Linked DNA regions of Homo sapiens. The gene in region 1 interacts genetically with each later gene. Each region holds a gene or a part of one and is shown on either strand. Other genes may lie near its edges.

Region 1 (5,065 bases):
GTAGTTAATAATAAATGCCTACAGTGCCCCCGAAAGCTTCCCTGAAACAACCCATTGCGGCCATCCAGAATCAGCCAAAATTCTATTTGGACTTGGGCTTCCTAGATGTGTTTGAGACCTATTGTATTAATTCTAGGCATACCAAATGTATTTTGATCATATCTCTTTAATACTCTTCCTGTCTTAACAAGACTAAGATAAAGACAAAGATCTTTTATTTTACTTTGGTAGCCTCCAGGGTGCAGAATAGTTAAAGACACCTCCCTCTCTCTCTTCAGCATTTGGCCAAGAGACGAATGTCCCTTTGAACAACTTCAGTGCTGATCAGGTAACCAGAGCCCTGGAGAACGTTCTAAGTGGTAAAGCCTGAAGCCTCCACTGAGGATTAAGAGCAACAGCCCCAGAGCCTGGGCTCTGCTGGACTTAGTATAATGTGAAAAAAATGTGTTCTCCTATTCCTCATAAAGCTTGTGCTGTAAAATACTTTCTCAGGGTGTTCTTGTCCTCATCTACCCTCTACCCCTTACTGTGCAACCACTGAGGCAAAGTAGCTTAATATAAAAATAAAACTTTATTCTGTCTCATCAAAAGCTACCAGCTGCTGAAGCAAACATGAAGGGTGGCGGGGGGGCAGGGATTCTAGGGCCCCAGAGTAAGTAGACCACACTGAGTCCCTTTTGGTCCTCCTGCCTGGATAGTGCTGAGTGGAAGGGGAGGAGCTGGGACCCAAAGGTCTTGGCTTAGGTGTGGGAGCAGAGAACATGAGACCTCATTATGGTCCTAAATCTCCAAAGGCTCTACTGGACAAACAAGCTTGATGTTAAGAGAGAGGGGAATGAGTGACATTGAGAAACAAGATCACCCTTGAAGAGCTGTCTGCTGGAGAGCATACACACGATCCTGGAGCTGGGCCTCTTCCTGATGCCTTTCCAGGGCTTGCAGCCCTGACTGCTGCAGGAAGACCTGAACAGCCTAGGGGCAGGGAAGAAAATTCAACACACCTGGTCTCTGTGTCCTAAGACTCAATTCCCACAGCCTCATGGGTCAGCCTACTCCAGAGGGTGCATTCCCCAACAAGAGGATGAAGTTTCTGACATGGAACCTATATAGGTTAGCCAGGCCCAGAGAAACAACTATAGTTAGGACTGGATGGGAAGGGAGCCACTGTGTGGCTTCAGAACAGGGGTGACTGAGGATGTGGGCCAGAAACCTATACCTCTGGCTGATACAGGAACAGCAGATGCAGCAGCTCCAAACTCTGGCCTACTACTTCAGTGTCAGAAAAGGCTAGTGTGTGCAGCAAGGCGGGAAGCAGGGGCCCTGGCCACAGCCGCTGGCAGTAAGCAGGACCCTTTTCTGCAACATTGCACAGAACTGTGAGCACCTGCAGATAGACACATATATAGTCTACAAAGAATGAAACACAAAGATCATAACAATAGCTAAAATATATGACATGGTGACCACATGCCCAGGCACCATGCCAAGCTCTTCTACATACATGTTCTCATACTCCTACAACTACCCTATGATGCAAGATTATCCTCAGTTATAAGTGAGGAGACTGAAGCTTAAGGTGGTTAGTTGATTTGTCCAAGGATAAATAATCCAGTTTAAGGGACACACACCTAGATTGGTTGGGCCCTGAGGCCACACACCACCACCTGCTGGCTCTCAACTAAGGGTACATCTGAGGGCTCAGGACTGCTGTCCCATACAATCCGACTACCAGATCTTGGATTCAAGTAACCCCAATACATACCATTACGCTCACCACGTTAGATACTGGCAACAGCTGTAAGAGAGGCTCAATCAGATCCAGGGAGAGCAAGGAGGTACAGAAACTAGGACTGTTTGCTGGAAGAGAAGTACCAGGGTGAAAAACTGCTTTCCCCCACCACCCCTGTCAATACTACCCACCTCAGCCTAGGCCATGAGGAAATATCCCCATTATCCAAATGTCCAGGCCTGGGCAGATTATGGTGCGTACCAGTGAGGTTGTTGAGGAGCCAAAGGCCCTCAGGGAGCAGACTGGGCTGTTTCTGGAAAAAGAACTGCAGAAGGATAAATAAGGCTGCCACAACACGCTCATCTCTGAGCTGCATTTGCCCTCCCACAGTCTCCACTGCTGCCTCAGTTAGCAGGTTGCTTAGACATCGAAGCACGGGGCATGCCAGCTGCAAAGACAAATTGGGGGGTCAGGTGTAAGAAGGAAGAGGTTACCTGCATTCCAGAGTATCAAGAAACATCTCCCAGAATTTCACCTGACATCTTCACCTACCAGCTCCAGTCCTGCATCCTCGGTTTTCTGGACAGCCCCAGCCAAGTCCAACAGCAGCAACCCCAGAGTAGACAGAGCCCCATGGCCAATGAGCAGAGGATTGCTGACCTGGCTGGGCAACAGGAAGCAAGCAGTCCCTAGGTATATAGTCAATTCCACCTTTAAGAAGAGAAGCAGTTGCCTAGGCGTGGTGGCTTATGCCTGTAATCCCAGCACTTTGGGAGGCTGAGGTGGGTGGATCACCTGAGGTCAGGAGTTTGAGACCAGCCTGGCCAACATGGCGAAACTCCGTCTCTATTAGAAATACAAAAATTAGCCGGGCATAGTGGCACGCATCTGTAGTCTCAGCTACTCAGGAGGCTGAGGCAGGAGAATCGCTTGAACCCGGGAGGCAGAGGTTGCAGTGAGCTGAGATCGCACCACTGTACTCCATCCAGCCTGGGTGACAGAGTGAGACTGTCTCAAAAAAAAAGAGAAACAGCTAAGGTCTGTGGGTCTCCTGGGCTCCAAAAAGAGAAGACAGTGGAGGGAGGAAAACTCACTATAGCAATTCCAGACACAAGTTCAAAGAGTTGAATGTCATGGAAGGGAGCCCCAGGGAAGATCTGTGGTACTTTCCCAATTGCCCTGTTACCTGCAGATGATGTAATGAAGGCACCAGGCAAACTCCACAGCGACCCCAGGGTTGAGCTTTGGGCCAGGTTGCAACATTTGTAGCATGTGCTGAGGGAGAGTGGAGGCCAAGATGGAGCTGCTGGCAGAAGCAGGGCTGTAAGTAGGAACCACGAAGATGCCAGTGGTTCTTACCAAACCCTGATAGCAGGTGGGAGAGTGTCCAAACCCAAAGCCCTGCCCAGATGGGAAAGTGTCCAAACCCAAAGCCCTTCCTAGCCAGACACATGAATTTAAAATGTGCAACAGCTTTGGAAATCATTCAGGCATCCGGGAGCTATACTACTGAGTGGGTCACCTCTGGCTGCACATCTAAAGACAATTTTACTCACGGAATGATCTTCTCTGGAGCTTCCTCAGCCTGTAGAAGCTGGGACAAGGCATATCCGAGAGCTTCCAGCACAGCCACATGGGGGGACTGGAAGTAGACAGGGTAAGGATCTGACTGGAAGCTGGGTCATCAGGTCTTCAGAGACTTTCAGCCCCTTGGCACAGGGCAGAGGCTGGAGCTACCTAACCAAAGTAGATGGAGCATGTGGGGAGGAGCAAAGGAAGGGTTGCCCAGGGAGGAAGAAAGGAGTCACCTGGATGCAGGCAGCCAAGGCTGGAACAATGCCCTGTGGCAGGAGCTGCCTTCTCACAGCCTCACTCTCCACGATCAGGTTACCCAGTGTATACAGACACAGCTCCTGAGAACAGGCAACAAAAGCACTGGGCTTGGCCTGTTTCATGCCAGGCTGCGTGTGGGGAGATGGGGAGGGGAGGTGATGGGGACGCTGGAGCAGCTATCCTTGCGGCTCACAAGAGGGTGGGGAGATGATGGGTGTAGCCATGGCTGTAGGCATAAGGGCAAACATGTTTTCTTCCTCCTACCTGCCAGCTCAAACTGGTCCCAAAAGCACAATTTTAAAATCTAAACCAAGAACAAGATAGGAAGGGACAGGGCTTACTATGAAGTCTGAGCTGTGACTGGAGAGGTAGGTGAGGAGGTAAGAAGTGGCTGGCAGGCAGGCCTCAGCAACAGTGGACTGCTCGGAGTGAGAGAGCTCATGCAGGCACCGAGCCGCCTCAAGCTGCAGCAGGGCCTGGTTGCTGGTCAGGAGCCCGACCAGGGTCCGCATGCTGCCCTCCAGCCTATGTGAGTGAGTACCAGAGCCCTGCTTAGCTTGTGGTCCATCCCTCAGAGCCCCAACTCCTCCCTCCACCACACCATCCACACTGACCGGATGAAGGTTTGCTGTGTTTCAGGGTGCTGCAAGCCTCGACGAAGGCTGACCAGAGCCCCCTCTCTCTCCTTTTCCTCTGTCCCCCGCTGGGCTTGCCGCAGGAACTGCTGCACCTGGAGTTCAGGGCAGGGAAAGGAGAACACACGGTTCACAGAAAGCAAGTCCTAAGTCTCTCTCTGCCCACTTCACCTGTGAGCCTTCCAATATCACACCTTCAGAACTTGTCATTCACACTAATGCAACTAATAAGCATCTACCTTGCAGTGGAGTGGACAGAGAATCAGAACTGAGTTCTAATACCATACCTGCCACTTACTCCATATGGGACCTGAACCTAAGTTTCCTCACCTGAAAATGAGAATAACAATATCTATCCTGCCTTCATACAGGGTTCTTTCAAGGATATTTAAACCTCTCAGCCTGGCAAAACCTACTCCTCTAGCCATTCTCCCCATGCAACCTACACTCTAACAACAACCAGCCTAACATGAGCTTTTTCTTTTTCTTTTTTTTACATTTCCGAGCTTTTGCACATGCTATTTCTTCTGCCTGGATACCCTCTCCAGCTTCCCACTCTCTTCAGGTTTCTGCTCCTCATTTCCTCTGGGAAGTTAGCTCTTTTTGAGAGACTTAGGAGTTTCTCTTGTTCCTCATGTTTCCTTCCCTTGTGACATCTGTCTTCTTCACCGGGCTGTGAGCACCTCAAAGAAAAGGACTCTATCCTTTCATCTTTGTGTACCTCAGTGACCAGCACAGTGTCCTGGCATAAAGTAAGCATACAATGGAATAGTATGACCTAGGAATAAGTTGATAATATATATGTCAACATGGTATGTACGGTAAACTATGTACGTAAACATAATACAAATACAGGGGATACTCAATG
Region 2 (5,111 bases), on another chromosome or scaffold:
TGTGTAACTTGGGCAAATCTCTGAAATGCTCCATGTCTTGGTTTTCCTCCTCTGTAAAATGGGATTATATTAATGGCCACCTCAAAGTAAGGCTACTTCTAGGGTATACAGAGCCCTGGATAAATATTTCTTGTAGCCAGGTGTGGTGGCTCACGCCTGTAATCCTGGTACTTTGGGAGACCAAGGCGGGAAGATTGCTTGAGCCCAGGAGTTTAAGACCAGCCTGGGCAACATAGCGAGACCTCATCTCTACCAAGAAAAGATATAAAAATTAGCCAAGCATGGTAGCTCACGCCTGTAGTCTCAGCTACTCAGGAGACTGAGGTGGGAGGATCACTTGAGCCCAGGAGCTGGAGTTTGTGATAAGCAGAGATCGTGCCACTGAAGTCCAGCCTGGGTGACAGAGTGAGACCCTGTCTCTAAAAAAAGAAAAAAAAAAAAAAAAGGCCAGGTGCGGTGGCTCACACACGTAATCCCAGCACTTTGGGATGCCAAGTCGGGCGGATCACTTGAGGTCAGGAGTTCAAGACCAGCCTGACCAACATGGTGAAACCCCATCTCTACAAAAAATACAAAAATTATCTGGGCATGGTGACACATGCCTATAATCCCAGCTACTTGGGAGGCTGAGGAATGAGAATCACTTGAACCCGAGAGGCGGAGGTTGCAGTGAGCCGAGATCATGCCACTATACTCCAGCCTGATGACAGAGTGAGACTCTGTCCCCCACCCCCAAAAAAAAAAAAAAGGGGGCTTGGCGTGGTGGCTCAAGCCTGTAATCCCAACACTTTGGGAGGCTGAGGTGGGCGGATCACGTGAGGTAAGGAGTTCCAGACCAGCCTGGCCAACATGGTGAAACCCTGTCTCTACTAAAAATACAAAAATTAGCCAGCGTGGTGGTGCACCCCTGTAATCCCAGCTACTTCGGAGGCTGAGGCATGAGAATCGCTTGAACCCAGGACATGGAGGCTTGCAGTGAGCCGAAATCTTGCCACTGCACTTCAGCCTGGGCGATAGAGCCAGACTCAGTCTCAAAAACAAAAAAGGACTGGGCGGTGGGGGGCGGGCGTGGGCGCAGTGTCTCATGCCTGTAATCCCAGCACAGTTAGGGAGGCCAAGGCAGGCAGATCACCTGAGCTCAGGGGTTCGAGACCAGCCTGGCCAACATGGTGAAACCCCATCTGTACTAAAAATATTTTTTAAAAATTAGCTGGGCATAGTGGTAGGCACCTGTAATCCCAGCTACTTGGGAGGCTGAGGCAGGAGAATTGCTTGAACCCAGGAGATGGAGGTTGCAGTGAGCCGATACAGTGCCACTGCATGCCAGCCTGGGTGACAGAGTGAGACTCCGTCTCAAAAAAAAAAAAAAAAGTTGTCAGGCACTCGTCTATGTAATCAGTTTTAATCTAGTACCCCATGTTCATACAAACACAAGAAAGAAACACTGTATATGTTTCTCCTACTGTATAGACCACTTTCCTAGAAGCTGCAGGCCCTAGGACTAACGCCAGAGAACCCTGGGGCGTCTGATCAACCCCACATGTAACATAGAGGGTAGGAAAGAATCTATCCCTGAAGGAGAGAAATAGAGATCAGTGTAACATCCATCCCAGCTGGTACCAGCCAGTGGGGGACTTAGAAAATTTCCAGGAAGGAACACCAAGACATGGGACTCCCGAAGGCTTAGGGCCTGGGGCACTGCCCTGCTTGCCTAGGCTGAAGGGTAGTACTGCCTCATAGGACAGTTGGGAACAGTCAATGATGCAAAGGACATAAATCACTTAGAACAGGGGCTGGCCCACAGCAAGTGCTCAATAAACACTTCTTGGCCTGGTGTTGGTATGGTGCTTCATACCTGTAATCCCAACACTACGGGAGGCCAAAGCCAGAGGATTGTTCAAAGCCAGGAGGTTCGAGACCAGTCTCAGCAACATAGCAAGACCCTGTCTCTACAAAAAAATTTAAAAACTAAAAAATTAGCCATGCGTGGTGCTGCATACCTATAGTCCCAGCTACTCAGGAGGCTGAGATAGGAGGCCTCCTTGAGCCCAAGAGTTGGAGGCTACAGTGAGCTATGATGGCACCACTGTATTCCAGCCTGGGGACAGAGCAAGACCTCATCTCTTCAAAAACTTTTTCTTTTTTTTTTGAGACAGAGTTTCGCTCTTATTGCCCAGGCTGGAGTGCAATGGCGCAATCTCAGCTCACTGCAACCTCCGCCTCCCGGGTTCAAGCGATTCTCCTGCCTCAGCCTCCTGAGTAGCTGGGATTACAAGCATGAGCCACCATGCCAGGCTAATTTTGCATTTTTAATAGAGACGTGGTTTCTCCATGTTGGTCAGGCTGGTCTTGAACTCCCGACCGCAGGTGATCTGCCCACCTTGGCCTTCCAAAGTGCTGGGATTATAGGCATGAGCCACCGCGCCCAGGCTTTTTTTTTTTTTTTTTTGAGACAGAGTCTTGCTCTGTCGCCCAGGCTGGAGTGCAATGGTGCGATCTCGGCTCACTGCAACCTCCACCTCCCCGGTTCAAGCGATTCTCCTGTCTCAGCCTCTCGAGTAGCAGGGACTATAGTCACATGCCACTACACCCGGCTAGTTTTCTTTTTTTGTATTTTTATTAGAGATGGGGTTTCACCATATTGGTCAGGCTGGTCTCAAACTCCTGACCTCAGGTGAGCCACCCGCCTCAGCCTCCCAAAGTGCTGGGATTACAGGCGTGAGCCACTGGGCCCTGCCCTCTCTTGTCAATTTCTATAGATAATTTCCTTCACTGAGAAATGTGAAAACGAAACCAAAAACAGTATAAGGACATTGTGTGGACCAAAGAAAACATGACTAAGGTTCAGACTTACAGCTTGCAGCCTGTCACGGGTGTCCAATAAACATTTGCTGACTGCCCGAAAGGCTGGGCTACCCTAGGATTTGGCTGCTGTTCACTGCACTCTGCCCCACTTTGACCCCAGAGAAACCAGGGAGCCCAGAGACATATGAAGACCTCACCTTCCCCAGCTGTTCACCAGTCTCCCCACATGTGTAGACAAGGAACTCAGAACCCCAGTTGTTTTTTAATTTTTTTTTTTTTTGAAACTGAGTCTTGCTCTGTTGCGCAAGCTGGAGTGCAGTGGCTCGATCTCCACTCACTGCAACCTCCACCTCTTGGTTCAAGCGATTCTCCTGCCTCAGCCTCCTGAGCAGCTGGGACTACAGGCGCCCGCCACCAGGCCTGGCTAATTTTTATATTTTTAGTAGAGATGGGTTTTAGCTATGTGGGCCAGGCTGGTCTTGAACTCCTTACCTCAGGTGATCCACCTGCCTCGGCCTCCCAAAGTGTTGGGATTACAGGCATGAGCCACCACGCCCGGCCCCAGTTGTTTTTTGTTTGTGTGTTTGTTTGTTTAGAGACAGGGTGTCATTATGTTGCCTGGGCTGGTCTTGAACTCTTGGCCTGAAGCAATCCCCCCGCCTCAGCCCCTCAAACTGTGGAGACTACACCACCATACCCAGCCCAGAACCTCCTTTTTCTCCAGTTTCCTGCCTTGACATCTCAAGGGGAGACAGTGATGAGCACTCGTCCATCCCTGGTCCTTCTCCTGACACTGCCCCCAGCCCCACTTCCCCGCTCACCTCCCCAAAATGCATGTAGATGTACTCCCGGGCACGCTGGTGCAACTCCACACAGCCAATCTGCTCAGCGAAGTTGGCGATGCCGATGGCATTGCTGGGGTCCAGCTGCTGCACCAGGAAGTCACTGCAGGCACGGACAACGCTGTCGATCTGGTACATGACAGCACCGTTCATGACGTGGAGGACACACTTCTCGCCCATGGAGATGGAGGCCGTGTAGGCGAATTCAATGAGGCGCTCCATGACCTTGGGGTGGATACCCTCAATGGACACCACCTCCATGCCCTGCTCCCGCAGCCCGTTGGTGAACATGGCCTTGAAGACAGGGCTGGATGAGGCCAGCACCACCTTGTGGGCCATGAACTGGGCGGCCGGTGCATCCTGGTACTTGACCTGCAGTGTGACGTCACACAGCTGCTGGCTGAGCCGCAGCTCGTTCATGATGCCAAAGGCCTGCTTGGTATGATCCTCCAGGGTGTAGCTGAAGGTGCGGTTGCCATGCTGGGAGGGCGTCACCTCCGCCTTGCACTCAGTGGAGGCGTACATCACCGCGTCCCCTGCCCCCTCAGGGCACTGTGACTGCAGGGGCAGGAATCGGCAGCAGGCCCCAGCCCCGCTAGGCCTGGGATCTGGCTGCATGGGGTTCCAGAAGATAAGCAACACCACCACCTCTGGCACTCAGGGACCTGGAGGGGAGAGAGCACAGGGCAGAGGGCAGGGGTTGGGACTGGGCCAGCACCTGCCGGGCCTCGTTTTGCAAGATAAAGCAATTCCTAGGTCAGTTTTCCTGCAAAGTAGGTGAAGCAGAATCCATTTGCAAACTTGCAAACTTCCCCGACCTGATCAACCTGATTGGCCCAAGAGCCCATCTTAAAACATACATGAAGTCATGTCTCTCCCCTGCTCTGGATCCTCCAATGCCTCCCACAGTACCTAGTAAAACTGAACTCCTCAACAGCCTGCAAAGCCCTACGCAATTAGCCCCTGCCACCTCTTCCCTTTGATCACTCTGCTTCAGCAATCTGGCGGCCTTTCCCTTTCTAGAGCATGTTGAGCTCATTCCTTCATTTGCCTCACCATTTACTGGGCACCTACTGTATGCCAGGCACTGATCTGGGTGCTGAAGACACAGCAGTGAGCAAAATACAAAAATCCTACCCTGCCAGAGCTGACAACTGCAGGGAGGAGCAATCATAAACTAAAATAAGCAAGACCTGGAAAAACAGCTTCATGAAGAAAATTACAACAGCATTGTGACAACGTGAGAATCGGGTGCAGTTTGTTTGCTTTTTTTTTTTTTTTTTTCAGATGGAGTCTCTCTGTCACCCAGGCTGGAGTGCAATGGCTCGATCTTGGCTCACTGCAACCTCCGCCTCCCGGGTTCAAGCGATCCTCCTGCCTCAGCCTCCCGAGTAGCTGGGACTACAGGCGTCCGCCACCACACCCGGCTAGTTTTTGTATTTTTAGCAGAGACTGGGTTTCGCC

The links. Genes that interact genetically often act in the same process or in processes that back each other up.
Region 2: changes in TMCO6 (region 1) and KEAP1 together harm fitness more than expected from each alone (negative genetic interaction), as found in Homo sapiens cells (one large-scale study listed by BioGRID).

The regions. Positions count from the first base shown.
Region 1 is NC_000005.10:140,640,892-140,645,956, reverse strand, and holds the end of TMCO6 (transmembrane and coiled-coil domain-containing protein 6), read right to left. Parts: intron 4,293-5,065; coding exon 4,177-4,292; intron 4,088-4,176; coding exon 3,904-4,087; intron 3,643-3,903; coding exon 3,538-3,642; intron 3,467-3,537; exon of another isoform or gene 3,372-3,466; coding exon 3,286-3,371; intron 3,051-3,285; coding exon of another isoform or gene 3,033-3,050; coding exon 2,916-3,032; intron 2,394-2,915; coding exon 2,282-2,393; intron 2,178-2,281; coding exon 1,991-2,177; intron 1,858-1,990; coding exon 1,763-1,857; intron 1,385-1,762; coding exon 1,217-1,384; intron 973-1,216; coding exon 859-972; 3' UTR 553-858; downstream 1-552. Other genes in the region: NDUFA2 (NADH dehydrogenase [ubiquinone] 1 alpha subcomplex subunit 2), read left to right, coding at 279-370.
Region 2 is NC_000019.10:10,495,769-10,500,879, forward strand, and holds part of KEAP1 (kelch-like ECH-associated protein 1), read right to left. Parts: intron 4,313-5,111; 5' UTR 4,266-4,312; coding exon 3,627-4,265; intron 1-3,626. UniProt on the Homo sapiens protein: Substrate-specific adapter of a BCR (BTB-CUL3-RBX1) E3 ubiquitin ligase complex that regulates the response to oxidative stress by targeting NFE2L2/NRF2 for ubiquitination.